Regions from separate parts of the Homo sapiens genome. Here region 2 is linked to region 1. Evidence: fine-mapped expression QTL. A gene starts in region 1. The other region holds a variant in brackets. All regions are shown on one strand. Distances are from middle to middle.

The links. PIP is the estimated chance that this variant, and not a neighbour inherited with it, causes the effect.
Region 2: its variant is fine-mapped to the expression of ZHX2 in monocytes (Fairfax 2014, PIP 0.95).

Annotation. Positions count from the first base shown.
Region 1 is chr8:122,773,800-122,787,507 of GRCh38, forward strand. ZHX2 (zinc fingers and homeoboxes 2) reads left to right here and starts at 7,856. Exons shown (of 4, transcript NM_014943.5): 1 at 7,856-8,147. It overlaps ZHX2-AS1 (ZHX2 antisense RNA 2), which reads right to left and starts at 7,805. Exons shown (of 2, transcript XR_007061082.1): 1 at 6,374-7,805; 2 at 4,085-4,398. RefSeq lists enhancers at 6,299-6,800, 6,801-7,300, 8,468-8,517, 9,173-9,707, 13,077-13,176 and 1 more and silencers at 8,568-8,637, 8,858-8,987, 9,768-9,847.
Region 2 is chr8:122,966,534-122,982,917 of GRCh38, forward strand. ZHX2 (zinc fingers and homeoboxes 2) reads left to right here. Exons shown (of 4, transcript NM_014943.5): 4 at 6,709-7,977. Among named protein-coding and RNA genes, the nearest start is that of DERL1, 68 kb to the right of the region's middle. RefSeq lists silencers at 3,571-3,670, 4,591-4,640 and an enhancer at 3,911-4,320. The variant A/G (reference allele first, on the strand shown) is at 6,935.

The DNA.
Region 1 (13,708 bases):
TTTTATGGCAGCCTGAGCTGACTAATATCATCTGTTAGCCATGTGGGCTGCAAATACACAACCCAGAATGAGACTGGCATACCCACACAGGTGCAGGCAGTGCTGCTGGCTGGGAGTGCCCCAACCAACGCTAAGACGCAGAACAAAGGAGTCTCAGGGTCTCAGGGGAGTGCCCCGAGGAGGAAGGGTGCAGCTGAGCCAGACACTTCCAGAGTCAGAGAGAAGCAGAAACATCCTCTGGAGAAAACCCCTCCTCCTGGAAACCAGGAGTGGGGAAAGGCGTTCCCCTTAAATGTCATCTATGGCTGCTGAATGATGCATGTTTTCATTCACTTACTCATTCAGCAAACATTCACTCAGCATCTACCCTTTATCAATTGTTTATTTCTATGGAAAAAACACCTGCCAAAATCTTAGCAGCATAAAACAACACAAATTCACTATCTCACAATTTCTGTAGGTCGGAAATCTAGTCATGGCCTCACTGGATTCTCTGCTCCGGGTCTCACTGGACTGAAATCAAGGTGTCAATCAGAGCTGCGCTTCTCATCTAGGTCTCAGGGTATTCTTTCAAGCTTGTTGGCTATTGGCAGAATTCATTTCCTTGTGCTTTTAGGACTGAGGTCCCAAGTGTCTTGTTAACTGTCAGCCAGGGTCTGCTCTCAGTTTCTAGAAGTGGCTCTCAGGTCCATCTTAGCAACAGAAAACCTCCCTCGTGTAAAATCCTTCTCATTCTTTGAATGTCTCTGACTTTCCCTTCTGCCACCAGCCAGAGAAACCTATCTGCTTTTAAAGGACTCATATGATTAGATCAGGCCTATCCAAATAATCTTCATAATCTCCATATTTCAAGGGCAAGTGATTTGGCACTTTAACAACATCTGCAAAATCTTTTCACAGCAATGCCTACATCCATGGTTGATTGAATAACCAGGGACTGGGAATCTTGGGGGCCATCTTTGAATTCTGCCTGCTATATATCCCATGTGAGGCAAGAAACAAGGACACAGAGATGACTATGGCGAAATACTCATCCACAAGGGACTTATAGTAAAATGGATACAACAAATACAGAGAAGTAACTAGATTATTGGGCAATAATTGCTAACTCAAGGTTAAGTGCAAGGTTCTGTAGGACTTCAGAGGTGGCAGGATTAACTCTTTGGGAGAGTACAGGAAGGCTTCCTAAAGAAAGTGACATTTGATCTGTGTCTTGAAGGACCGAGGAAGAGGGAAGCCATTCCAGGTACAGGGTGCACCATTTACAAAGATGGAAAAGATCATGGAAAATGTAGGGAGTGACAAGGAACCCAGTGATGCTAAATTGTAGAAGACAAGATTAGAAGAGGCAGAAGACTAGGCTGGAAATGCTGATTTGGACAAGTTTATGCAAGATCACTTCTGCTACCCCAAAGAAGTAGAAAGCAATAAAAGATTGTAAGCAAGGAGGTGACCAAGCAAGATATGTGTTTTGGTGACAGCATGGATAGTAGACATAGAAATTGGAGCCAGGGAAATCAGTTAGTTGGTGTTTACAGAATTTCAAGTTCCTTGAACTGTCTTAAGTAAGGCTGCTATAGAACAAATAACCAGAGACTGGGTGGCTTAAACAAGAGAAATTTATTTCTCACAGTTTTGGAGGCTTGCAAGTCTAAGATCAGGGTGCCAGCATGATCAGGTTTGGGTGACAGCTCTCTTCCTGGCCATCTTCTTGCTGTGTCCTCACTTAGAGGGAAGCAGGGAGAGAGAAAGTGAGCTCTCCGGTGTATCCCTTTATAAGGGCACCAATCCCGTTAAAATGGGAAAAGTTCCCTTGTCCCCCTCGCAGGGCATGCAATGAGGGTGTGGTTCGCTTCTTCAGTGCCCCGCTACTCAAACTTCTACAGGAGTGTACAGACAGGCAGGCCATGAGGCTTCGATCCCACGGCAGTGCCTAGGGGTGAATGTTTGTAGCTCCTGAAGCCCCAGTGGGTGTGTGTTACAGGGTGCTCTTTTAGTTTAGCTGTCTATAGGCGGCTTGTGTTAACCAGCTCAGTTAGACCCCCTTCCTTATCACAAGGACAGAGGGATTTCTTTATTCCAGGGTTTCTTGCCTTGGTGTACCAGAAGAATCTGATCACACGTGGGCTTGGAGAATGAGTGCAAGGTTTTATTGAGTGTAAGTAGCTCTCAGCAGATGGGGGAGCCAGAAGGGAGATGGTTTTCCCCTGGAGTCAGGCTGCTTAGCGGCCCAAATCTTCTCCAACTGCCCCTCTCATCTGGCTGCCTGTGTCTACCTGCTGGAGTCTGGGGTTTTTATAGGACCAGGATGAGGGTGTGGCGGGCCAGGGTGGTCTTGGAAAATGCAACGTTTAGACACAAAAGCAGGAGTCCTCACCTAGCCTAGTCCTCACAAAAGCCTGTCCTCACCTAGGTCTGTAGGGGTGGAGCCCTGGCCAGGGACCCACATTTCTCTACCCAGCACTCCAGTATCACTATCAGGAAGGCCCCACCTTCATGATCTAATCACCTCCCAAAGGCCCCGCCCACTTCCTAATATGATCACATTGAGGATTAGGATTTCAACATATGAATTGGGGGGCAAGGGAGCACAAACATTCAGCCCTTCAACCCGTGGCACTGATTCTTATGCTCTCAGAGGGAGCAACATTGTAATAGATTCATACATGAAGAACTGTGACAGGCAGCCAGGTGTCAGCAGTGTGAAACATGTACCGCTTAAGTAGCATGTGTGGCCATGAGATGGTTTTAAATGATGTCCAGGTACAGCACAAAATAGCTCTGACTCAGAGAAAGTTACAACTTTCAATTCTCTTCCCATCCTTTTAATTAGCTCAAGAAAAAATTCTCAGTTTGGTGCTACCCTGTCTCTAATAACCTTCTAACACCTTTCCCCTCCATCTCTACCTTCTGCAAATAAGAGTATCTAGCTAGCTCAATAGTGCTGTTTTTTTTTTCCCATGGTTATTTTCACTGTTACCTTTCATTGGTTCATTTGAAAATTCAATATTGGATTTTCTTGTTTCTATTGTGACAAAAGGCTTCTTTAGTATTAGTATGAAATAAGTGCATTTAAGTTTTAAAAATGTGAATCAATGTAAATAAAATGTTTTCTTTTTTTTTTTTTTTTTTTTTTTTTTTGAGACAGAGTCTAGCTTTGTCACCAGGCTGGAAGTGGTACAATCTTGGCTCACTGTAACCTCTGCCTCCCCGGTTCAAGCGATTCTCCTGCCTCAGCCTCCTGAGTAGCTGGGATTACAGGCACTCACCACCACACCTGGCTAATTTTTTTTTGTTTTTAGTAGAGATGGGGTTTCACCATGTTGGCCAGGCTGGTCTCAAACTCCTGACCTCAAATGATCCACCTGCCTCAGCCTCCCAAAGTGCTGGGATTGCAGGTGTGAGCCATGACCCTGGCCAAATAAAATGTTAAATTAAAAATACTATAGGTAGTTCCTTTGCTACTGGGACAAAATTGGTGAAGGGGGTTTGCACATGAGTTAATTTGCAAGTCACAAGTATAGTGGGAAGCAGGCAGGATTTGTAATCAATCAAATGTGGGCTCAAGACCTGCTTCTAACTTATCAGCTGTATGGCCCATGGATAATTCATAAGCTTCTATAAACTTGTTTTCTCCCACAAATTAAGGAGACAATATACTATTCAGAAGGTTGTTTAAAAGATTAAATTACATAAAGTATAAGAAGCACCTCCCAGGCAGCCATGTACATGGTGGGCACTTGCACTCCCTATCACAGTGTATATCCTTAAATAATGGAAACCTCTGTTTTTGGCAACACCAAACAGGAACTTAACTCCAGTACCTACTGAGTATCTATGCTTGATAAATGAGTTCTTATTTGCTTAGGATCTGGGACCTGTGGCGCGGGATCCTTCATGAGCAACAACTAAAATCAAGAAAAGCTTTGATTTGGAGAGTGGGCCAGCTCAGGCATCATGGACCAAGAGGCCTCTCTACCCCTTGTCCTGGCCTCCAATATTTCACAATGCTACCTATACCCTGCAGAGTTCAGGGGGAAGTAGATCTGAAATATTCAGATATATGTGCAAATAAAGACACGGATAATAACTCCCATTTTATTTATCTATCACTGTGTAATAAACCACCCCAAAAGTTAATAATGTTAAACAACTACAGTCTTATGATCATCTCATTATTCTGTGGGTTGACTAGGTGGAGCTGGATGGTTTTCCTCTACATAATGTCAGGTGAGACTAGAGTCAAGTGGGAGATCGATTAGGCTGGAGCATCCAAGATGGCTAAAGTCTGTGTATTAATCAGGATCTCAGGTGGAGCTATTGTCCCTATCACCTTTGTTTTCACTCCATGTGGCCTCTCCATGAAACTTCGGCTTCTCACAGCATGGCAGCAGGACCCTAAAAGGAAGGAAACAGAAACTGCCAGTCTCTTAAGACTTGGATTTAGATGTCTCAGAATATCACTTTCATTGCATCCAAAGCAATCACAGGACCAGTCCAGATTCCAAGGGAGGGGAAGTAAACTCCACCTCTTAATGGTGATGTATTTTTCAAAAAAGGAAGGAAAGGATTGAAAAAAGCCATCTTAGAAGACTACCACACCTCCTAAAGCTTTCACTTTTTGCAAAAGGTTTTTATTCTTGAAATGTGTGTATATTTCAACTAAGCAAATATGTACCTAGGAATTTATCCTAAGGAAGTAATCGCAGATGATTCAAAAGATCTGACACAAGGTTGTTCATTGGAATAAAATTGAAACTACCCAATGCCCAACAACAGGGGACCAATTAAGTCCAAAGGTGGTTGAGGACAGTGTTTTAAAAGTCTATTCTCTGGGAAGCAGGTAAAATTAAGCTTAAATTCCAACTCCATTACTTAGCATCTGTGTGATGTCGAGCAAGGTACAGTACTTAAGCTCTTTAAGTCTCAGTTTCTATATCGGTAAAATAAAGACAAAATATAGATTTTTGTGATGATTCAATGAGATGATACATATAAAAGGCTCAGCACATGGTAAATGATCAATAATTGTGAACTGCTATTATTATTTATGATAGTCCTTAGTGCTATCATATTAGTGCAAATCTTTCCCATTCTCTCCATTTCCAGGCACACAATACTTCCATGGATCTTTACAGTTAACTTTGTGTTTAGTTCTGACCAATGAGTTGTAAGTGAAAGTGGCATACGTTACTTCCTGGCTGAACATTTACTTGTCCAACATTATTGATTCTGAAGCTCCTAAATACTGTCAGATAACGGTCTGTCTACTCCATGAGTATACTTCAAGCAAACAGGGATCATACCACATAAAGCAAAAGCCACCTTTGTCTTATTCCTCATTGTTTTCTCTTTATATGGTGCAAGTTCAGTCCATGCTAAACTCTGAACAATTTTAAAACACTGCAACACATCAGAAGCCCCTCATCCTTGCTAGTGTCCATGAGATCCAAGTGCTCTGAAGATATGAGAACCCAGCAGACTGTTTAGAGGGTTACCTGGCTTCCCTCCCACCTGGCCCATTCCACCCTACATACAATCTGTCACCCAGCCAGAAGCAGGTGGCAGTGAGGTGGCAGCAAGGGAAACTTGGCTTATAGAAAACCCTCCTAAGTGATTGATCATCCAGAGGAGGTGCAGCCTCAAAATAGGAATAGCTTCGTTAAGGTTTGGGTAATTTCCATGGAAACAGACAGAACTAGACTTATTTTAAAGGGGGGGGGGGCAGGGCGTGGAATAGCCTGCAAGGGGCATAATAAGGTAAGCGATGTAAAAATGTTGAAGTTGGTGTGGCCGGCGGGACGGGACAAGGCGGGGGAATGGGGGGAGGGTCCCATATTTTTTTCTTTTCTTTTTACAATTTTGGTTCACCCTGGGTGAGGCAGAGGTTGGGAGGAGATCAGGCAGCGGTAAATTCTGATGTTGATGGCAAGTAAATTAGGTTCTTAGCCGGTACCAAATGAGGCTGAGAAAGATGTGGCCCAAGCTGGATTACAGTCATCAAGAAGTTAACAGAATCCTGTAAGAGCCCCTCCAGGTCGCCTTTCAGGTCCGCGAGCATCACGCAAGAGACTCCTTCCCAGGATAGAATCTTGTTTTATGGGCGGTTAAAATGCAAACAAACAGACCCTACATCAGCAATAACCGAACAAACAGGTGCAGGCCATTAAGAAAGTTTTGCATATGAGCTGTTTTAATTTTTGTTGCAAAGGATTTCTGGGGAGTCAAGGGGTATGTCAGAAATTAGAGCCCTAGGGCAGAACTTACAAAAACCTTTTAGCTACTTCCTTCTCCCCGGCCTCGGAAATGAAAAAGCCAAAAGGTCACCCAGCGCATCCGCCACCCAGTCAGCCCCAAGGCCAGCCGTCCTCACCCCAGTCCGGGTCCTCGCCATTGGCCTCTCCGCTGCACACGGCCACCTGTTGATGCCCTCGCGCCCACAGCCGAGTTGCAAACGGCCGCTAGAGTTCGTTCTAATTCCCCAGAGCAGAGCTGCCCGGGAAGCCCCGACGCGACGCGCCTGCTAATCTGCAGGGCGGGCGGGGACTCCGCAGAGCCTCCCAGCCCCAGGCTCCCTTTGTTTTCTCGCTGCGCTCGAAGCTTCTAAACTAGCCCCCAGACCGCATCCCCTCGTCCCCGCCCGGGAGCTGCCCAAGAGTCCACAGGCCAGCCCAGGGGGAAACAAGGTACATCTGGGCAGGAATGCGCGGCGCAGACAGGTTGCCGCCTGAGATCCCGAAGTGTACCCAGATCCCGAATTCCTTAGAGCTCTTTAGCCGAGCACTGTGGCAGGAGCGCGGCGCCCGGAATACAAGTTCATGGTTCCGAGCCGGCGGGCGAAGGGCAGCGCGATCCCCCGCCACCTTTGCTCTAAGGCGCCTAGGGGAACCTGGGGGCTGCCGCGGTGAGAGCTCCGCTCCCACTGGGAACATTGGAGTCCCAGTTGCGAAAGCGACCCGCCTAGCTTCCGAGGGACTTCTCTGCGAGCACCGCAGGCGTGTGCATTTCTTCGAATCTGAGAATTCCAGCGAACTCGGGCTCTACCAGAGTTTAAGTCGGCCCCTGGGGCGTCTGTTTGTTTATTGGCTCTTAAGGGAAAAAAGTTTGAAGATCTTTAACCAGCCTCAGACCTGGCGCGGGCGGAAATCCCGGAATCTCCCCAAGCAAAAGTGATATAACTTCAAGTCGTTATATAAGTGGGGGGCTCCTTCTTCCCCTCCCTACGCCGAGCCTTCTCATTATCATTCCGGGAGTAAAATGTGTCTCGCTCAACATAGTTTTAAAATCGTTATTATTATTTTCCTGAGCCTGAAGCCGGGCCAAGGCGCAGGCAGCGCCCAGGGTGCGTGGTGGCCCCACCCGCGCACAGTCCCACGCAAAGGGTCCCGGGGCCCGGGTACCGCCAGAGCCGGGCCTGCAAGCGCGCCCTTCGGTCCCACGGTCCGCCACTCCACGTGGTCAAGATCAACAGTTTGTTGAGCTCATCAGTGACACCTTGAACTTTTCATAAAGAAAATGGGTATTGCACGGAGACGGTTTGGCCGCGGCCGCCGCGCGGGGTCGTGCTTAATATTCAATGATCTCGCTCGCGCCTCCCCCTCCTCTTCTCGCAGAAATTCCACCGAGTCCGTTACTGGGCTCAGACTTTTAAGTTAATTTACTGCCCCCCTACCTTGGCCAGTAACCAGCGCCTTTAGGGCTAGCCTCCCCCCCAGCTCCTGCCTGAAAAATGACATTTCGCCGGTGTCTCCGGAGGGGGCTGAATTTCACTTTGTAACTTTCTGCGGAACCCGAGCCCGGGTGGCAGCTCGGGTGGTGGTATCGTATGCAAATACGCATGCTGACGTTACAGATCATGTGGGTTTTGGCGTAGATTCCCCACTGATCGAGGCATTTTTTTTCCCTTTTTTTTTCCTTTTTTTTTTTCTTTTAAAAATTTTGGCCATCGTTCTCCGTACGGGGGCTTTTTCTGTCTGTCTGTCTGGCTGGCAGGCTGGCTTTCCCCCTCTTTCCCACGGAGCCCGAGCCGGGCGCCCGGTGGGGAGTGGGGAGTGGGTGGGGGGAGCCAGCAGAGTTCCATTTTGGAACGCCCGTGCCGCGTCTCCGCGTTCCCAGCCCGGGTCCCCGCGTTCACAGCCCCAGCGCAGGTAAGAAACTTCGCCTCGGCGCGGAGCCCCCCAGCCGGCGCCGCCGGCCCCAAACCCCGCACGCCGGGCGCCGGCCACTCCAGCCCAACTTTCCCACCGCCGCCGTCGCCGCCGCGGCTCCCGAAAATGTGTTGTTAATGGGACTTGGCCGGGTTTGTGATTGGAAGGGGGGTACGGAAGGGGGGGGGTGTGCAGGCTCTTTTTGCGGGTGGGAGGAAATGAGCGGATACAGAGAGGGAAGAAGATTTTTTTTTTAAGAGTTTTGATTACAAGTTTGGATAAATGGGAGCCAGAGCGAGGAGGAGGAGGAGGAGGAGGAAAAACATGTCTACGTTTCCCTATGTCGACATAAGCCACAAAAAAATATGGCGTCCGCTTTCGACAGGGCGTTACGTAGACCCGACTGTTTTTATTTATTTATTTCGTGGCCGTCTCCCTCCCTTCTTGGCCAAACTGCGGCGCTTTGTGCAAACGGGGCAGGTCCCGCGGGGACTCCACCGGGACGTGGCCCCGTCTCCGCGCGTTTTGGCAGGCGGGGGGCTGCGTGTGTCTGCTCCCCTCCCTCCCCCTCTCCCCTCGCTCCCCTCTCCCGGTGACGATTCGCCGTAATGTGGTGGCAGGAAGCATGACGCCGTGGGCCGAGGCTGCCTCTGCTCTCGTCGCTCCCGGCGGCTGCAGGCAGCGGGCGCGCAGCGCGGGCGGCAGCCGAGCTACCTGGCGGGGGCAGGGCCGGAGCGCGGCGCTGTCCTCACCCCCGCTCAGGTGCAGGGGGAGTCCGCGCGGGGCGGGGGGCCGAGGGCGGCCGCGGGACCCCCGGCCCTGCTGTCCGCTGCCAGCTGGCCGGAGCCTCTGCCAGCCCGAGCCCACGTTCGCCCCCCTGAACGGCAGCTGGCGCTTTTCGTCTGCCCCACAAGAGGTTAATCTTTGTTGGTGTTGCAGCTTCTTTGTGGCTTCCCCAGGACTTGTATCCTCGGCTTTGCAAACTTGCCCTTTTCCCAGCCGCTTTGCAGGAGGCTGCGGAGACGAAGATGAGCGGAAAGTTGGAAACCAGCAGGCATCACAGGACGGTCCCTTTGGCCTCGTAGCTGTGCTGAGCCTGGGAGGCGGAGGAGGAGGTGGAGGCGGCGGCGGAGGAGGGTTTGTCAGGCTGGGGAGAAAACTTGATGAGGAAGCCAAATTGTGATTTGTTCAGGTTTCCACCTGATTGATAGTCTTCAAAGCCAGTAGGTCTCTACCTTCAACTGTTTCGCGGTGGCCTTTTGTTTGTCTGGGGCGTGGAGAAGGAGAGAAGTCGATGAATAAGGACTTTCCCTCGACCCCTCCCCTTTTAAAGAGTGGTTGCTCAGCTTGGCCCCCTGGGACACTGCCTTTTAGGCCCTGGAGTTCTTCCCCAACCTGCTCTCTGATCACTTTCTCTCTGTTAAGTTACCAGATCTCCAGGTCTCAGGCAGGCCCCGATGAGCAGAATGGAGTTAGAGGAGAGGATTCCTTCCCCCAGCACTTCTTGAATTGCCCAGACCTCCCACAATTACCCTCTTAAAACCACACACACACACACTTACTCACTCTCTCCTTTATATATGGCAGAAATTAATGCCTGTAGAAGTGAAGGGGGTGAGGTTCTGAGAGCTCTTCAAGATTTGAGTCAAAAGGTGATTTTCTGTTTATGAGGGCAGCGAGTTTAAGCAGTTCACTCCCAGGGCAGTAATGTCAAAAAGCGTTTGGATGACGACCAAGTGGAATAAATATCTTGTAAAATGGCATGTTTAATAGTAAAAATAGATTAATGGAGCTGTCAAGTGGTTGAATGGGACTACCATAAAGGTTTAAGTTTAAAGGGAAAGTTATGTAAAGCTGTATACACAGCTTCTTTTAAGGCCAGAAGGGAAAAAATCTACAAGTAAGGCTGAAATGTGTCACTGACAATAATTGGACTGGTGATGTGTGGAAATATCATCGCTGTTTAAATGCTCTGCTCCGCGATTGTTCTCTTGCGCACTTGTACCTTTCCTTCTAGCCAGGTTTGCTGTCAGCTAAAGGATGCACCTGAAGATTGTGCTTCAGGGGAAAATGCAAGAAACCAAGATTCTGGGGCACATCAGCTATCTCAACTAATGTCCATTTGAAGGGGGAAAACACCACTGTTTGTTGGCACTGAAGAAAGGGTATTCCTGTGATGTAAGTGCAGTGTATCTTGACATGCTGAAAGGTGGCCCCACCCGGCGTTTCTCATCCACATCAGGACCATGTGATTTGGTGGGATGCTGTACACTTATCAAAAATAATCATGGCAATGTTTGATAACAGTTTCTAACACTGTTATGGTGTGTGAGGCACAATGCTGTATATTTTACGTGCTTTATCATTTAATTCTCACCACAATCCTGTGAGCTAAGTACTACTATTATCCTCCGTTTATGGTTGAGGAAACAGAGGCTCCAAGAGGTGAAGAAACTTGCCTGAGCGACACAGCAAAAAGCAAATCCAGGCCTAACTTCATAGCCTTAACCAGTCCATTGTAGCAGCATTCAGATACACGACGTCACAGTTAGAATAAAAAAGTAAAGGGTCAGGTCCAGCAGAAAAGAGGGAACAGTAGCCACTGTCCTGAGGTCCGAACTTCAGAATTTACCTGGATTTTATTCCTTTATTCATTTATTTAGCAACTGTGTGTTGATTTATTTATTCATTCAGCAACTATAATGTTCATTATACTAATAAGAACCCATAGCCATTAAGCATTTTTGTATGCCAGGCACTATCCCAAGTGCTTATGACTAGACTATTTTGTCTTCATGACAACTCTGATGTAAGTACTCTCATTCTCTCCTTTTTCTAGATGAGGAGGCACAAGCCCAGGTAAGTTAGCTAACTTGCCCAAGTCCAAACAGCTAGTAAGCGGAGTGGCAGCCCCCAGAACACACACACTCTGCTGTTGCAATGCAGAGCGCATAACCAGATGTATGGAAATGCTGGGGAGACAGAGCCCCCCTGGCAGAAACGCAAAGCACTGCATGCTCCAGACATTATGGAGATGCTGGTGGGATACACACCCCCTGCCCTCTAGGAGTTTGAGCCGACTGCGGGGAAGCACTCATTAAACCAAATCAAGCAGGCTTAGATAAGTGCTATGATTGAGAAAACTAACCACTGTGGAAGCACAAGGAAAGGCATGATTCTTCTGCTCTGAGGGGATCACAGAGGATCTCCTAGAGGTGGGAGCAGCTGAACTGCCCCATGAATGAAGAGGAACAATGTCCAGAGGTGTAGCCAATATCACTGCATTCGGCTGCTAGCAGCAGACTCTTGACTACCAGTGACTTAACCAGATAGGGACTTTTTTGTGTCAGACAACAACGGGGTGAGGGGTAAAGGGAGATGATGCCTCAGCTGTACCATTGGGAACCCAGACTACTTCTTTCTACACTGCCATGCTTAGAGTGGAGGCCTTTGGCCTTAGGTTTATCATCTCATGGTAGGAAAGTGGCTGCTACGTCTCTAGGCCTCAGGTTTGCATTCCAAGAAAGAGAAAAAAGGATGAATGAGTCTCAAAGAGCTTTTACCCAGTACAGCTTCACTGCTATATCTGGGAAGGGGCACCCCTCTCAGGGACTTCTGTCTTTAGCTCATTGACCAGAGCTGTGCCACATGGTGACTACTGCCAGGGAAGAGCAGTCAAGTATTTTTAGTTGGACCCATTGCTGTCATGAGCAAATTGGGGTTCAACTTGTAAGGCAGACGGGGTGAAAGGAGGAATGGTTGTTGAGTTGGCAGGGAGGGCATGTGCCGCCTGAGAAAGAAGGGCCCTGGGAGCAGTGGACAGGTACCCTGGGGAGGTGGAGAGGGGGATGCAGGGAAGGCTGTGCAAAGAGATGATGCCAGGCTTGGGGGTGCACATGGAGGAGGCTGGCTTTTAATCTCTAGGTACTAGGGAGCTATGGCAGGTTTCTGAAGGTCACGTGTTTGGGGAAGGGAAGACTAAGACTGACAGCAGAGTACCTTGTGCAGACAAACGAGCTTAGTTCTTATTTGCAATAAAACGAGTTCTGCAAAGTTTCAGGCCAGGGAACAGTTTTGCCTCAGGGCAAAGAGAAGACCATGTACAATAAAGAAGTGAGGGATGATTTGCTTTTAGGTCCTGTCAATAAGAATCCAAACTTAACCTGATGTGAGTCAGCTGTTACAGGGAGGCAATCAGCTCTCCTTTCTGGATAATTCAGTTAGTGGGACTGGAAAAGCTGGAAGGGGGTGCCATTTACTCTCCAAACACTACACTTGCCTTTTTCCTGACCTTTGGGTCTCCTGGGCCCTAGCTGCAGCTCCACCACTCATCAGCAGGATACCTTTGGCCATGACCTTCACCATTGCTTTAAATCAAGGAGATGATATCAGAGCATGTCAGAGGCCTTCCCAGCACCAGATTCCCCAGGCTAGATTCCTCCAGCAAGGGCCAGCCTCTCTGATTCTCTTTGCTCAGGGTATTACCTTTATGACTTTGAGCTGTTACTTACCTCAATTTTCTTATCTCTGAAATGGAGATCACTTTAGTAGCTGCTGTATGAGTTGTTAGGAAACTTAAGAAAGTTGTAAAAAGGCTTAGCACACACCTCACATGTGAACTGTGCTCAACAAATCACCGTCATCACTGCAACCACCTCAAGAAAGTGACTTTATTGTAAATTTGAGGTGCCAAGTAATTAGCATGTGTGGATTTCATCATCAATCCCAGGACCCTGACTGTCCCATCTCATTGCCATTCCCCTTCTGCCTCCCCCCACCCCCAGTACACACATGCACTCATTTTGTGGCAAGTCCGTACCACACATCAGGTACCACACGTACGGTACCAGCACATGAGGTACCGTAATGTGCTGTGTCATAGCCACATCCAGACAGCACATCTCAGGAAGGATGCTTGGCTGTGCACATGCCCCTTTGGTAGACAATAAGGTAGACATTATTTTCTGTATTGACAAGATTATTTCATTTTGAACTGAAAAAACTCGTGATTCCCCTCCCCCACCCTTCTCTAATGCCCCCACCCTACATTGAGCAGGTTGTGATTTTAAGAACATCCACCCACAGTCTGCTTCCTGTTCTTACACTTGTAATCATGCAGTTAAGAGGGGTTGATTGGCAGTGGTGTGTGTGTGTGTGTGTGTGTGTGTAAAACAGACCCCATGCAGAAAAACAGTCCTGACAACAGTATATCAATTTCCACCCAAACTTTAAAATGGAATAGAGACACCAGGGCCAGAACCTGTCTTCTTGCTGATACCTCTCTTTCCCCCCTGGTAGACAATATTTACCTGTTAAAAGTCACAGTTCACACCCTTTCTTCCTCTTTCTCTCCCCCTTACTCCCTAACATTAGAAACACTTAGTGGAGATTAATCTTGTTACACATTGTTTCACTGCAATGGTATTTAACACATAACAGAATCTGCAGTGAATGAAATTCTTGTGCTATTGATCCATGAGGGGTCAATATGAAGGAATGTGAGCCAGGCATTCACTGTGGTGTAAGAGATTTGTGATATATTTTAGGGGTGCACATGTCTA
Region 2 (16,384 bases), 190 kb after region 1:
ATAGGTTTTCCTTTATAGGTTACCTGATGCTTTTGCCTCACAGGTCTTAAGATTCTTTCCTTCATCTTGACTTTAGATAACCTGATGACCATGTGCCTAGGTGATGATCTTTTTGTGATCAATTTCCTGGGTGTTCTTTGAGCTTTTTGTATTTGGATATCTAGATCTCTAGCAAGACCAGGGAAGTTTTCCTTGATTATTCCCTCAAATAAATTTTCTAGACTTTAAGATTTCTCTTCTTCCTCAGAAGCACCATTATTCTCATGTTTGGTCATTTCACGTAATCCCAAATTTCTTGGAGGCTTTGTTCATTTTTTTTAATTAGTTTTTGTCTCTGTCAAGTTGGGTTAATTCAAAAGCCTTGTCTTCAAGCTCTAAAGCTATTTCTTCTACTTGTTTGATCCTGTTGTTAAAACTTTCCAGTGTATTTTGCATTTCTCTAAATGTGTCTTTCATTTCCAGAAGTTGTGACTGTCTTTTCTTTATGATATCTGTTTCTCTAGAGACTTCATCCATATCCTGTATTGTTGTTTCAATGTCTTTAAATTGGTTTTCACCTTTTCCTGGTGCCTCCTTGAGTAGCTGAATAATGAACCTTCTGAATTCTTTTTCTGGCAATTCAGATTTCATCTTGGTTTGAGTCCGTTGCTAGAGAGCCAGTGTGATCTTATGGGAGTGTTTTAGAACCTTGTTTTATCATATTACCAGAATTACTTTTCTGTTTCCTTCTCATTTAGGTAGACTGTTTCAGTGGAAACATCTGGAACTCAAGGGCTGCTGTTCAGGTTCTTTTGTCCCATGGGGTGATCCCTTGATGTGTTGCTCTCCCCCTTTCTCTAGGGATGGGGCTTCCTGAGAGCCAGACTGCAGTGGTAATTATTGCCCTTCTGGGTCTAGCCACCCAGTGGGGCTGCTGGGCTCCAGGCTGGTGCTGGGGAATGTCTGTAAAGAGTCCTGTGATATGATCCATCTTCAGGTCTCCCAGTCTTGGATACCAGCACCTGCTCCAGTGGAGGTGGCATGGGAGTGAAGTGGACTCTGGGAGTCCTTGGTTGTAGTTTTGTTTAGTGCAGTGGTTTTCTCAAATGCTGGTTACACCAGCAGTAAAATTGCCACATGGACAGACTCAGGACCTCTGGTTAGCCAGGATGTTGCAGGCAGTGGCATTAGCTGTTGTTTGCTCCTTTGAAGCAAGGTTGTTCTGTTATGAGTTGCTGTAATGGCTTGAGTTGGTTGGCCTCCAGCCGGGAGGTGGTGCTTTCAGGAAAGCGCCAGCTGCAGTAGTAGAAGGGGATATAATTCTGCCCTACATTGGCCAGGATGAGTACTCGGGTTTCTTAGGCAATGGACAGGACCACAGAACTTCCAAAAGATTATGTCTTTTTTCTTCAGCTACCAGGGCAGGTAGAGACAAACCATCAGGTGGGGGCAGGGTTAGGCGAGTCTGAGCTCAGACTCTCCTTGGGCAGGGCTTCATGTTAGTTTCTTTATTTAGGGCTGATGAGAAGGCGGTGCAGAAAGGTAGCTCGTGCAAGTCTTTGAGGTAAAAAGTGGTGGAGCTGGAATTCAAATCCACCCCTACACCCACACATGTAAGCACTTTGGGGAATCTGCCCAGTGAGTTTAAAATACAATTCCATTTGCTCTGGTTCTATTAAATTCCCCTGGCCAATATGCACTGATAGGCCAGGAGCAGGAAAGGCATTCCTACTGTCTCTGAGCCTCCCTGCAAGCAGCTTGAGGAATATATACCTGGCCTGTGGGTCTCAGCAAGTTCCCCAACCCTAGAGGCCCTTCAAACCACGCAGGGAAGGAGAGCTTTGGCGGGATGTGGCCAAAACTGACTCAAGCCTGGTGTACAGACAATTTGGGATGGCACGGAGTTTTTGTCATCCACTGGGAAGTTGCTTAATCTTCCTCCAGTCCAACACATTTCCCCTTTTTAAATTCTAGTTAAAAATCAGACTGTGCCCCCTACCCTCAATAAAAGAAATGAAAGTTTGAACTCAAATATTATGAGGCAGGCCAGGCACGGTGGCTCATGCCTGTAATCGCAGCACTTTGGGAGGCCAAGGCGGGTGGGTTACCTGAGGTCACAAGTTCAAGACCAGCCTGGCCAACATGGTGAAACCTCATCTCTACTAAAAATACAAAAATTAGCCAGGCATGGTAGTGAGCGCCTATAATCCCAGCTACTTGGGAGGCTGAGGCAGGAGAATCACTTGAACCTGGGAGGCAGAGGTTGCAGTGAGCTGAGATTGCACCAGTGAACTCCAGCCTGGGCAGCAAGAGCAAGACTCCATCTTGGAAAAAAAAAAAAAGAAAAAGAAATATTATGAAGCAGACCAGACACAGTGGCTCACGCATGTAATCTCAGCATTTTGGGAGGCAAAGCCAGGTGGATCACTTGAGGCCAAGAGTTCGAGACCAGCCTGGCGAACATAGTGAAATCCCACCTGTACTAAAAATACAAAAATTAGAGCCGGGTGTGGTGGCACACACCTGTAGTTCCAGCCATTCGGGAGGCTGAGGCATGAGAATTGCTTGAGCCCAGGAGGTGGGGATTGCAGTGAGCCAAGATCATGCCACTGCACTCCAGCCTGGGTGACAGAGCAAGACTCTGTCTCAAAAAAAAAAGAGAGAGAGAGAAATATTATGGAGCAGTACAGAAATAGACAGTGGAGTGATGTTGACCAGGGGATGGGGCAGGGGGATGTGGGGAATTTTCATACAATGGGTGTAAAGTTGCAGTTATACAGATGAGTAACTTCTGGAGGTATGTTGTACAACATAGTGCCTGTAGTTAATAGGAAGATATTTACTTCAAAATGTGTTCAGAGGGCAGATCTCATGTTATATCCTTACCTCCCCACTGCCCCCCCCAAAAATAGACACAAGCAAACTTTATGTTTGTTACTGGATTGTAGTGACAGTAACATGAGTGTATGCATATGCCCAAACTCACTAAATTACATCCATTATGTGCGGCTTTCTGCAAACGAGTTATACGTCAATAAAGCTAGGGCAAAGAGGGAAAAAATGCAACCAGAAAGAAAAGACGTTGCCTACAGAGAAACTACAGTTAAACTGACAGGTTTGTCCGTATCAAAAATAGAAGCCAGATGACAATGGAACAAAATGTTTAGCAGATAACAGGCACTCGGCAAATGAGCAATAAACCTTGCTACACCTCTCAAAAAAAATGTTATGGAGAGATAATCAATCACTCTCTCAGTGTTTGTTTTCCTTTCTCCTGGAGTGCAGTGTTACTCACTCCCAAGTCCCTAGGGCCCTAGAGAAAGTTCTCCTGGGAAAATTAAAGAGAGACAGAAACAGAAAGCTGTCACATGGGAAAACAATTCTAATGTTTTTGTTTCTCCAATGAGGAAAGTAACAGAGAAGCAGATTTTGCTAAAGAATTAGTACTTCTTAACATTCCAGGTTTTCCCCAAGACAGAAAGGGAGGGTGGGAGGCAGTGGGTTCCTGTCCTGGGACGTGTTCACCGAGAGCCTGGACATCACGTGGTAGAAATGTCCCAGAGGCCATAAGGAAATGCCTGTCCGATGGCCTTGCAGCATCCTCCAGGGCTCTGAGAGGTACTCTAGGATGAGGCACTGGCCCTTTGCTGGGTGACTGTCTCTGACCAGGTAATAGGACTCTGAGAGAAGCCCAGGGGAGTTAGCAAGAGCCACACAGCCCAAAGCACTGCAATGCTCTATAGAACAGCAATCCTGAAATGTGGACTTTGTCACCACCCTTGGGTCACAGCCACTCCTCTGACAGCACTATGCTCACTTTCCATTTTCCATTCATTGACAAATGCCTGTTGAGTATGCTGCATGGGCCAGACTCCACAGGGAGCGGATGGGGGGGTCAGCCTGCTTGCTTTGCACCCTGTCTGTAACCCTGCCAGCAGCCCGTGGGCTCTGTGCAATGGAAGTGAGACTCTGGGAGGTTAAGTAACCAACCTCAGCACGTAGCCAGGAAGTGGCAGATCCTGGATCCCAGCTTTCTCCAACTCCACAGCTCTTTCCACCCCATCCTGCAGTCCTGTGCTGACCCAACGTTCTTTAGCCGGGTTGGGAGAAAGAACATCGGTAGCTGTCTTCCCGCCTTGGGCCTTGTCTCCTAGGATCTGGAAGTGTTCAGGGGGACATCCAATCAGTGGCAGCCTCCCTCCCAAAGGTGGTGGAAGTCCCCATTTGCTGGGGAAAACCCTGTTTCTTGGAAAGCACCGGCAGAGGCTGGCCGTGGGCTACTGTGCCAACCCAGGGAGTGCATGTGGCTCTGCCTGGGATCAGCAATAAGGCTCGTGGTCCTCACTGGGTGCCCCAGCCCCCTACCTTTGAAGCCACCATGCTCTCTTCAATTGCTACCTAGCTCTGTGCATGGAGAGGCTGTGCATGACCTGGACCCAAAATAGGTACAGGGAGGAGCAATTAAGAATCAGGAGGCTCTGAAGTTGGACTGGCCAAGGTGGAGTCGGGCTTCACCACTCACTGGTTACCTAATGTTAAGCACAACATTTAATCTCTCTAAGCCTCCATTTCTTCGCTATGAAGTGGGTCTGCCAATCACCTGCCAGTCACTGTAAGGAGTAGATGAGATGAGCCGTATTACCACTTAGCATGGGGCCTGGTGTGAGAAACTAGCTACTCTCACTGTTGGAGGGAGAGTCATGATCATTCTTGTTTTTGACCATGCCACTGAGCAGGTCCTGGCCTAAGAGAAAGCACTTTTCCTCCTGAGCTTCCTTTTTTTTTTTTTTTTCCTGGTGAAATGAGTGATCTTGACAACATCACCTATAAGGATCCCTGCAGTGTTTACAACTTGGTGACTCTGGCTGGATGACTTTTAGGTAGTCCAGATTCTAAGGTCACCCCTGGAATCTGGTTTTATCTGCAGACTTTTCTTTTATAAATTGGTTTCTTAACTCCAATATTCAATCTTACTCCCAGGAGCATCTAGGGAATGTGGGTGCGTTTAACATCCAGATGTTAGGCATGAATGGCATTATCGATGATCAGCTGATGCCTCTGGCTGAGAAGTCCACTCTCCTTGCTGTTGGCCCCTGTACAAAAAAAAAAAAAAAAAAAAATTCCTTCTCAGGGCTTTCTCAGCCAAACAGCCTTACCAGGAGGGAGGCAAAGAAAAGGCCAGTGGCTCCGAGAACCTACAGATCTGAAAAACTTCTAGCCTGTCATGGAATACTGGCTGTGTCCTCTAGAGACCTGAGCCTTGCTTGGATCCCTTTCCCAGGATCTCTAGATCTTGGGAGGAGACAAAAGTAATGATGGAGACCTGCCCCCATTTCCTCTACCTACCACAAAGTATTGCAAACTGGATGGCTCAAAACAATAGAAGTTTATTGTTTCACAGTTCTGCAGGCCAGAAGACAAAAATCAGGGAGTCTGTGATGGTTGCTTCCTTCTGAAGGCTGTGCAGGAGTCTGTTCTGTGCCCATCTCCCAGCTTCTGGTGTCTGCCGACAGTCTTTTGCATTCCTTAGCTTGTGGATGCATCAGCCCAATATCTGCCTCAATCATCGCATGGTCTCTTCCCTGTGTGTGAGTCTTCACATCTTCCCTCTATGCACATCTGTCTCTGTGTCCAAATTTCCCCCTTCTGTAAGGACACTAGTCATGTTGGATTAGAGTCCACCCTGATGGCCTCATTCTCACTTGATTTAACTGTGTTACCTCTCTAAAGGCATTTCTAATAGGGTAACATTCTGAAGTACTGAGAATCAGGACTTCAATATATACTTTTGGGGGGACACCATTCCACCTATAATAAGGTCCTTGGACTATTTTCATTACTTCCAAGGGTATAAGAATTAAACATTTCTTCCTACTGATTCTTAATAATTCTGTTTATTAAGTGCACGGACTCTAGAGATTACCTGGGTTTGAATCTTGGCTCTGCCACTTACTAGCTGTGTGATCTTGGGAAACTTATTAGGCCCCTATATGTTCAGTTTCCTCAACTGTAAAATAAGAATAATAATAATATTTACACCTCTTAGAATTCATATAAACATTAAATAAAAACACATTTACAATGCCTCATCTTATCACTCTTCTATATCCTACCACGTTTGGAAAAGGCTCCATCTAATAAAAACAGCAGAAGTATCTACAATACTTACCATGTGCCAGGCACTAGTCCAAATACTGTTGTGTACATCAACGCATGGCATCATCGCAGCAACTTTCTAAGGTGGGTGCTAGTGTCATCCCTGTTATACAGAAGCAAAAACTAAGCCCTAGAGTGATCAAGTCCTATAGGTACAGCCCTGCAGCCACTAAGGGGAGAAGTTAGGACCCAAATCCAGATTTGTCTGACTCCAGGGCCTTTTAGGAGCCACTGGGACTGGTTGACTTTCTAGGAATAATAAAAGGGTCTTGTAAGGATGAAAAGAATCACAGGCCACCACCTTCACTTGCCCAGAAAGTCACTCTGTTTTCAAAGGCCTGATTCTGGAGGCTTTTCCTATTATGGCGGACTGTGCTCAGAAAACACACTCGTTTCTTTACAACAGGCCCCGTACATGAAGGGCATGTGTCTCTCTTCCAAGCCCCAGGATGACTTTGGAAGGCCCCCACCCCAACCCAGGAGAGCCAGGAAGAAGCAAACCATGATGCCTTCCCCCCAGGGAACAATGGTCATTTGCCTGACATCTTGACTCTGTGGTTTTGTGTCTTCTAGGGAAGTCTGTTAGAACTGCTGTGCTGATCAACGGGACGCTCCGTCTTTGAAGAAAGAAGAGATGGTCTCTCCCCAGCCATGGGCCACCCTTGCCAGTGACTCCAAGTGGAACTACTTAGCTCGCGTGTGCCTGGAGGGTGCGGGAAGTCCAGCGACTCTCAGACGCACCTCCCAGAGGACCGGTGGGAATTGTTCATAGTGCCAAAGTCCTACTACTGCGTTTTCA[A/G]TGGGTCCTTGTACATAGTTTGCTCCTCTGCCCTAGCCCTCACCTCTTGCTATACTGGAACCGATTTGTACAATGTGGGAATTTTGTTACCTTTTTAATCAAGGGCAACTTCCTTTTCCAGCACTACCATTGTAAGGTTTTTTTCAGGAGGGAGGGCTAACCACCTTGCTTTTCTCTTTTCTCTTTTTCTTTTTTTTATTTTTGTTTTATTAATTTGGGGAAAGGGGTGTTAGCATTAGTGCCATGATATCTACTGGATTTTAAGTAGGGAGACTTTATTTTTAAAGGTAGGTTGAAATTTGGGAGATTTCTCGGCAGGAAGGGCTGAAATCCAGGCCCCTGTCTCAACTTGGAGAGAGGTGACAGACGGCAGATCTTCCAAATCAAATTCCTTTCCAGTTCTTCCCCTGGCTGCCTTTTTGGGGGTCCCTGCCTTAGCCCCACACAAGGCTTTCTGAACTGCCAAGAGGGGATCTGGCTTCTCAACTGCTCGGCCTCTTGGGCCAGGCTGTGCCCAGCCAGCCCTGGGAGAACTGGGTAGCAGGTGGCTGACTTCTTTAAGCACCTTTCTAAATACCAGCAGAAGAGGCTCCCGCCTCTGTTAGCATGATCAGTACTATTGTGACATTAAAACAACAACAATAAGATCTTCCTATCTGGAGGGTACAGAGGTGAATGGCTTTGGTTTTCATTTCTCTTCTTCACTGCCTTTTCTCGGTGTGGTATTTGACAAGATTTTAGCTCAAAGCCTCACCATGAATTGATTTTTTTTGTTTGTGTGTGTGTTTGTTTTGGGACAATTTTAGATACCTGAGTGCACTTTTTCAGTTAGTCCTAACTTTTAAAAGAAGGAAAACCAAGAGACATATCTGGTGTACGTGTTGCAGTATGAACTCTGGTTGCAATCCCTCCCCGTCCCACACTGCCCCCCATTTGAGTACACCGCACAAGTCAAACGCTAGGAAGTTTGAATAAAACCAATTTTTCTAACTTGTTGCTCATTTGTTGTAACTCAATAAAGCAAAGACTAAACATTTTTATAACCTTTTCCTCTACTTCGCCTTCTTTATTGTCGTCTGGCTCCCGAGGGCTTGGTGTAAGGGTTCTGACTTGGATACCTCCCGTTTCAAATTCATTTTCCATCCTGGAGGGATCTGACATCGCAAACTGGACTTTAAAAATGGGACGTAGGCCCAGCGCAGTGGCTCACGCTGTAATCCCAGCACTTTGGGAGGCCAAGGCGGGTGGATCACCTGAGGTCAGGAGTTCAAGACCAGCCTGGCCAACATAGTGAAACCCCATTTCTACTAAAAATACAAAGATTAGCTGAGTGTGGTGGTGTGCACCTGTAGTCCCAGCTACTCAGGAGGCTGGAGAATCGCTTGAACCTAGGAGGCGGAGGTTGCGGTGAGCCAAGATGGCGCCACTGCACTCCAGCCTGGGCAGCGAGAGTGAAACTTTGTCCCCTCCCTCCCCCCACCGAAAAAAAACTGGATGTAAGTGTTGTAGGAATCTTCAGCAGATCTCATCGACACAGAGAAGGAAGGTATAGGCCCTTCCTTCTCCCGGGTCTCACAAATAGATTCATAAAATAGTCAAGAGAAGAGCTTCAGAGTGGGAATGAGAAGCCCCTCTGTGCACAGGCTCGCCCTTGGATGACCTGAGCTAAGTCGCTCCCCCTCCCTGGGCTGCTGGCGAGTGGTAGCTGGGGCACTGCCATTTCTCTGAGAAGGTGGCTTTTAAGTATCTCTGCCCTGGTGAGGTTTAAAGAGTCCCTCACTCTTCACACCTGACACTCGTCTAGACCAGTGGTTCTCAAACATGAGTGGGCACCAGCATCACCTGGAAGGTTGGTTAGACTGTCTGATCGGCATGTCTGGGGTGGGAACCGAGAATGTGCATTGCTAACAAGTTCCTCACCTTGGGAACCTCTGGTCTAGATGGTTCATTTTTACGGGAACTTACAGACTTTTGGCCAGTTTATCTAAACTTAGCATGTGTTTATTCTACAGATAACGGGAAAGACCCACTTCCCAAAATACAGGAAACACTGAAAAATTCAAGATTCAAAAGGGCCTGGCCTTCTCTGGGGGATTCCCTCAGTCCCCCATCCTGTGGGCTCCCATGACACCCTCTCTGCACATAGCCCTCACCACACAGCTCTCGGATTCATTTGGTCAGCTTGTCGATTCCCCCAAGCTGAGAGCAGGGGCCATAGATTTTCCATAACTTTACACCTCTCCAAAATTCCGCTAATTCTCTTTACCACTCAGCAAAGTTGAATGTAGACAGCGATTCAAAAATAAAAATAGGCCAGGTACAGTGGCTCACACCTGTAATCCCAGCAATTTGGGAGGCCGAGGCGGGCGGATCACTTGAGGCCAGGAGTTCGAGACCAGGCTAACCAACATGGTGAAACCCTGTCTCTACTAAAAATACAAAAATTAGTTGGGTGTGGTGGTATGTGCCTATAATCCCAGCTACTGGGGCTGAGGCACAAGAATCACTTGAACCCAGGAGGTGGAGGTTGCAGTGACCCAAGATCACTCCACTGCACTTCAGCCTGGGCAACAGAGCAAGACTCCATCTCAAAAATAAATAAATAAAAGTAAAAATCATAGCTATCTTTTTTATTGAGCACTTATTATGGGTTGGGCTTTGCGCTGAGTGCCTTACATACATTTTCTTATTTTATCTTTACAACCCTGTGAGATAGGTGCCCCCATTTTGCAAATGAGGAAACTGAGGCTTAGGTTTTGTAACAAGCCCAAGAACATGCAGATACTAAGCGGTTGTCATGGGAGCCTACTAATTTTGCCTATTATGTGTCCCTTACCTGCTGCTTCTGGTAAAAGCAGCCTCTTTTCTATGGGAACTGCCCTCCCCATTCCATGAGGCTGTGCTGTGACTATTGACAGACCTGCTCAAGCAACATGATCCAAGCCTAGCCAATCATAGTTCCCGTCCCCTGGCCCTAGTGATGGCATGTGGGTCAAGCAGGGCCAACCAAGCCTCTTCTTGAGAGATGGCTGTAAAGAGAAAAAAAGCTCATTCTTTCTGCTTAGGTAGCTAAATTAAGAAGATGTGGGCCAGGCCAGGTGCAGTGGCTCATGCCTGTAATCCCAACACTTTGGGAGGCTGAGACGGGTGGATCACAAGGTCAGGAGATCAAGACCATCCTGGCTAACATGGTGAAACCCCGTCTCTACTAAAAAACACAAATACAAAATTAGCTGGGCGGGGTGGCGGGCACCTTAGTCCCAGCTACTCAGGAGGCTGAGGCAGGAGAATGGTGTGAACACGGGAGGTGGAGCTTGCAGTGAGCCAAGATCGCGCCACTGCACTCCAACCTGGGCAACAGAGTGAGACTCCATCTCAAAAAAAAAGAAAGATGTGGGCCTGGGGCTGACTGCAGCTATTTTCTCTGCCATGGGGAGGATGTCTCTCTACAAAACATAAAAACTCAGTGAGAAAAGCAAATATTTGCTAGTATTACAGTTGTTGGAATATGGCATAGTAGATAAGTTGCTTGAACAAGGAAACACCAAAATGCAGTGTTTGAAACAAGATAAAAGTTTATTTCTGTCTCAGGCAACAGTCCAGGGTGGGCCATCAGGCAGTGCTCCACAGAGCCATTCAGGGACCCAGGGTGCCAAGCAGCCCTGCTGTCCTCAGCAGGCGCCTTCCATCTCTAGATCAGAACTGACTGCTTCAATTCCTCATCCACGTGGCCAAAAGTCCACTTCTACATTCCAGCCCTTGAGAAACAGGAGAGCAAGAACTTCAGTTTTAAGGTCATGAAACAGAAACTGGTCACTTCAGTTCCTATCCTATTGGCCAAAACCTAGACATGGTGACACCTCAATGGAAAGAAAGTTGGGGATGTAGGCTCTGGATAGGTGGCCAAGAACCAACAGAGAAGGGGCTCTGTATCTGAAAGGAAGAAGGGGAGAGTGGATATCAAGGATAGAGCAATCTCAGGTCAAGTTTACCTCCACCCTCCCCAGTTACATGAGCCCAGAATGAACTATTTATGTTTTCAGCTGGTTTACTAGGGTTTTTGGAACTTAAAACCAAAAATCATGATCAATATAGTCTTGAAGCCTCAGTCTCCCTGACTGGTGCTCTCAGGGGCTGCAGGGGCTGAATCACAGAGGAGAGGGTCCTGGAGTAGATAGAATGGAAGGACTGGCAGGTGAGTGCAAGATCACATCTAAAGAGGGCTTATTTGGAGTGTCAGACCCACTAGATGAGAAATGGGAGACAAAGAAAGAGGTCTTGAGCAAAGGGCCCCAAGTCCACATTGAGTCAAAAGGATGACAACAGGTGAGTTTCAGCCTTCTGCCATGAGCGAAGTGGGCCCAGGTATGTCTTTATTCCTCTTGAGTTCCAGTGACATCAAGAAGCAGAAGGTAAGGCAACTAAGTGCACAGGCTCGAGTCACGCTGCCTGAGGTCAAATCTCAGCTCTGCCACTTACTAGCTGTATGACCTTGGGCAAGTCACTTATTCGCTCTGTGTCTCAGTTCACTCACCTGTAAAATGAGATAATGATTGTGTCTATTCATATCGTGGCAGGTACCATGAGTCAGTATAGGGAAAGCATTTAGAATAGTTCCTCGTATCTATTAAATTCTCAGGGTTGCCATTGTTATTCCTGGGTGCATAATGCATGGATGGATTGACCCAAATTAAAATTATAGGGATTGGACAGACTCCCTCCCCCTTTTTATGAATATCAGCATCTAGCACATTTGTGTTGTTGGAGAGTTCTTGTCCTTGACTAGAAGCCTTGCAATCCTGCAGCAGCCATTGACTGTGAGCTCCAGTTGCCTTGGAGATACCTTCCATCAACGTCTATCCTCAGACCTCCCTCACCACTTCCTCATTCTTTCTCAGTCCCCTGCACTCCTCCAGTCTGTGGCATAGGCAGGATGCAAGGATGTCTTCTCCCTAATGAACTCTTCTCAGTCCCTCTCAAAGCTCACACTCCAGATGCCACACTCCACCTGGTCCATTCTAAGAGCACCTGATCTCTCTGTTATGATCTCTGCTCAAGTGTCACCTGCCCTCCGTGACCCCCTGTCTGCAGAGGTAGGACTAGGGTGAGTCAAGGAACGCACCTAAGGGTGCAAAGTTTAAGGCAGAAAGGTCATGCAGGTGACAAACCCTGCACTTGCAGAAGCCTGAAAGTGGGTGCCTGCCAAGATTTCTCATCCTAGGTGCCTCATGTGCCTCACTCTAGCCCTGACCCTGCCTACCCTTCATGCTTTTCTCTAACCATGCTTCATTATCTTCCGTCTTGCTTTTCACAACATATCGTCATGTATCTGTTTGTTTTTTGCCTTCTTCATCCCACTATATTGCAAGCTCCATGAGAGTAAGGACTGTATCTATCTTGTTTCCTCACTGTATCCCCTGTGCCTAGCACTGCATCTGGCACAAAGTAGATGCTCCATAAATATTTGTTAATGGATGGATGGGTGAATGGATGGATAATAGATGGGTAGATGATGGATAGATTATGAATAGACGGATGATGGATGGATGGATGAAGACTGCCAGCTCTGCAGTCAAACAGCCTGAGTTTGAATCACAGCTCTACTGCTGACCAGTTAGGTGATCTTGTGGGAGTTACTTAGCTTTTGTTGGAGCCCTGGTTCCTCATCTGAGACCTGGAGATGATTATACTCACGTAATAGGTTTGGTGTGAGGTTTAACTGAGTGCATGGGAGCAAAATACTCAACACACAATAAGAGCTCTACAAATGTCCATTCCCCTCCCACCGCTCTATGCAGGGAGTGACATCAACCCAAGCAGTGTGATACCTGTGCCTTTCCATCCCTGGATAGGAAGTTTGTGTGAGAAGGGCAGCCAGGAGGAAGTCGGATCCAGGTCTAGGAAATGATATTCCAGACATGTGCTTCTGGCATTGGAGACTTTGCCATATGTAGCCAACGCTGTCTTTAGCACCCTCTACCCCCAAACTCTTCCCTAACCCACAAACATTCCAAAATTCCAACCTGCACTTTTCTTTAAAAAAAGTTAAAGTTGCTGTGGCTAACTCATCTCCCAGTTCCTGCCTGCACTGCCTTCCCTGCCTGTGCCCCCAGCACCTGAACCTTCCCCAGACCTCATCACCCACATACTGTCTTGTCCTCCCTCCCATTAATGAACATTTCCAACACTCTCTCCCTTGACAGGTGGCTGCCTTCCCCTCCTGCCATTTACCACCCTTGTGCTTAAGCTTGCCACTCCAAGGCAATTTAAATAAATCTTTCGAGCAAGATGGTATGAGATGCTATCAAATGCTTGAAGGACCCAAAGAGAAAGCCTTGATAATTGATGGGGATGAAAATACAATGGGAAGATGGGTGTGCTCTTTTAAACACCCAGCAAAATATGTCAAGATATCTTCCTCCACTGGAAATGATTAAAGAGTGGCAGAAACTAGGAAGGAGGTTCTTAGGGGGAATAGAGGGGCAGGATTCTTGGTGAGGTGGAAGAGAGTGGTGGGGTGGAGCGACCATCTGCTGCTGCTTCTGTCTGCCCTATACCTCTTGAACTCCTTCTCTTCCTTGAGGATGTACTCATATCTCCCTCCACTCATCTCATTCTTGGGGCTTCCCATCATGGTGACCCACTCTCCGATCTACAGCAGTGACCCACGGCACTCTAGTACCCTATTCAGGGACAGGTACAGTACCACGCATAAGACCCAAACAGCACCAAGTCAGATACTGGGAGGAAGAGCTTCCTTTCCCATTTAGATGGTAAGTGCAATCATGTTAGCTTGGAACCACCAGTGGCCAAAGCCCCTGCCAGGGAGAGGAAGCCAGTCCTTAAGTAGAGAGAATGGGGCCACAAACTCAAGAGGCAAGGGAGCAATAAAGGATGGAGCAAGGGATGATGATGGTGGCGGTGATGACGGCAGTGGTGATGACAATGTTGATAATCATGTGAATCCCTGGAGCCTGCCATTCCTAAGGCCAACTCCTTGTCTTTCCAGTTTCATAAAAACCAACATATTTTCCTTTTTAGCTTAAGCTTCAAATCTTTTGAGTTGGGTTTCTGTCACCAGAAACTCAAAGAGTTCTGGTGGGTTAATGAAATTATGAGATAAAAATGAAAGGAAAGACAGCAATTGTAAATAGCCATGTTGGCTAGTGGCTTCAGTATTGGATGGTGCGGTTCTTAGTCCTTGCCATTCAAATGTGCTCCTGAATCAGCAGCATAGGTATCACCGGGAGCTTGTTAGAAATGCAGTATCTTTGGCCCCTATGCCAGACCTGTTGAATCAGATTCTGTAATTTGACAGGATCCCCAGATGATTCGTATGTTCAGTAAAGTTGAAGAAACCCAGCTCTGAAGACACTAAATGGCTCCTCCCCAACCTCCTCCAGCACACTAAGGGATGGGTGGCAAGTCTAATAATACATCACTGGCCTGTCTGCAGAGGGTAGACCCTAGGGCCTGGGAACAGGGAGGCAGAGGAAGAACAGGGCAGAAAGAGCATGGTCCACCAGCTGATGACACACTTGTCCTTCTAGGCCACCTGGTGCACAGCCACTTCCAACCAACAGTGCTTGGAAAGGATAGCTCTCACTGACCTGTCACAATGCAACCCAGAGAGAACCAGGAAAGATGTCAGCTCCCTCCTTCTAATCGCTGAAAGCTCCTGTCTCCAACATCTCACAGCTGGACATACGTATAAAGCACAGCAGAAAAATTATCATTGCCCTGGGCAGGGGAAGGGGGTTGATCGATAAAAATGAATAAAAAACACTTCATGAGCACATCCCATGACATGCTGCAAGTTGAGTATCCTGTAGAGTGTAGGAGGCATCCTGATCTTGACTTTGAGAAACTTAAAATCAGAGGGAGACCAAAATGTTCACCAGTAATTCTGAAACCTTCATCCATAACAAGCCCCCAAAGCACTACAGACTGCCTTAATCTGGATCCTTGCAGGAAAGAAATTGAACACTTACAATGGGTAAACTGGGAGTGGTTTATTAAAAAGGATTTTTATAAAGGTGTGAACAGGGTTTAGAAAAACTAACAAGGGAAGATGCAGAAAGCCTGGCTTGAAGGGACAAGGGATGGACAAAAGATGCCAAATGCACACTAAGCTTGCCGTCATACCCCACTCCACACCCACAGCAGATATTAATGATCAATCAAACTACCTTCGCCTGCTGGACTTGGTCAGGTCTTCATGATACTTAACACAATGCTCCACCACAAATCTATTAACCTTGGAACATGAGATGAAATATGTGATGGATGCCATTGGTTGCCCAACTAATATCCATCCCCCTATCCTTCCTTGCCAACAGAACCAAGATATTCCTCAGGCAGTGTCTTCATCTACTTGTGCTGCTATAAAGGAATAGTTGAGGCTGGGTAATTTATAAAGAAAAGAGGTTTATTTGGCTCATGGTTCTGTAGACTGTACAAGAAACGTGGTGCTACCATTTGCTTGGCTTCTGGTGGGGGTCTCAGGTTGCTTCCACTCATGGTAAAAAGTGAAGGGGAGCTGACTGTGCAGAGATCACATGAAGAGAGAGGAAGTAAAGTGGGGAGGGATGTCAGCTCTTTAACCAGCTCTCAGAGGAACTAATAGAGCCAGAACTCACCACAGAGATAGCACCAAGCCATTAATGGCGAGTCCACCTCCATGACCAAAACATCTCCCATTAGGCCCCACCTCCAACATTAGGGATCACATTTAAACATGAGATTTGGAGGGGTCAAACAAACCAAACTATAGCAGACAGTAGCATACCCATGCCCAGGTGAGAAACTCAGTTTCCCAGCTTCCCTTTCAGCTAGGTGTAGTTAGTGAGACATCACCAGAAGGCCACTGAATAGTTGGTGCTACTCTCCTTCTTTACTTTTTCTTGTCTTGTATGCATTTTGTGATCTCGAGACTGAGTTCTTTTTGACTTTAGAGTCCATGACCAAGTGCTGCAGCTTCCTGTTTCCAAACTTCTTGATATGTGAGAAAAGTAAACCCCTATTTGTTTAACCCATCACTCAGTGAATTTGTTTAACACATGCAATCAGATGCACTCATAATTAACACAAATCTATCTGCCATCCCTGGGCTAGATAGATATAAATCCTTTCTCTCATACATGCATTCATTTATCCCTATACTAACTGCCATGGTAAGATAAGTCAGGCATATACATTGCCTACACAAGGAAATTTGATCTATGTTTGAGGGATGAGTTTGACAAGTGGATAAATCAGAGGAAGGCACAAGAAGTATAAATAAGGGTATATACAATTTCAGAATTTTAAATAATAGGAATCCAACAAGCAGTCTATAATGTGTAACAAAAGAAGAAACCATCAATTTTGAGCAACGAGTTTTGGAAAACAATCAAGTCACCCTGACTCAAATCTGGTAAGAAAAAAACAGAAGTGCTTATCTACTTGGAA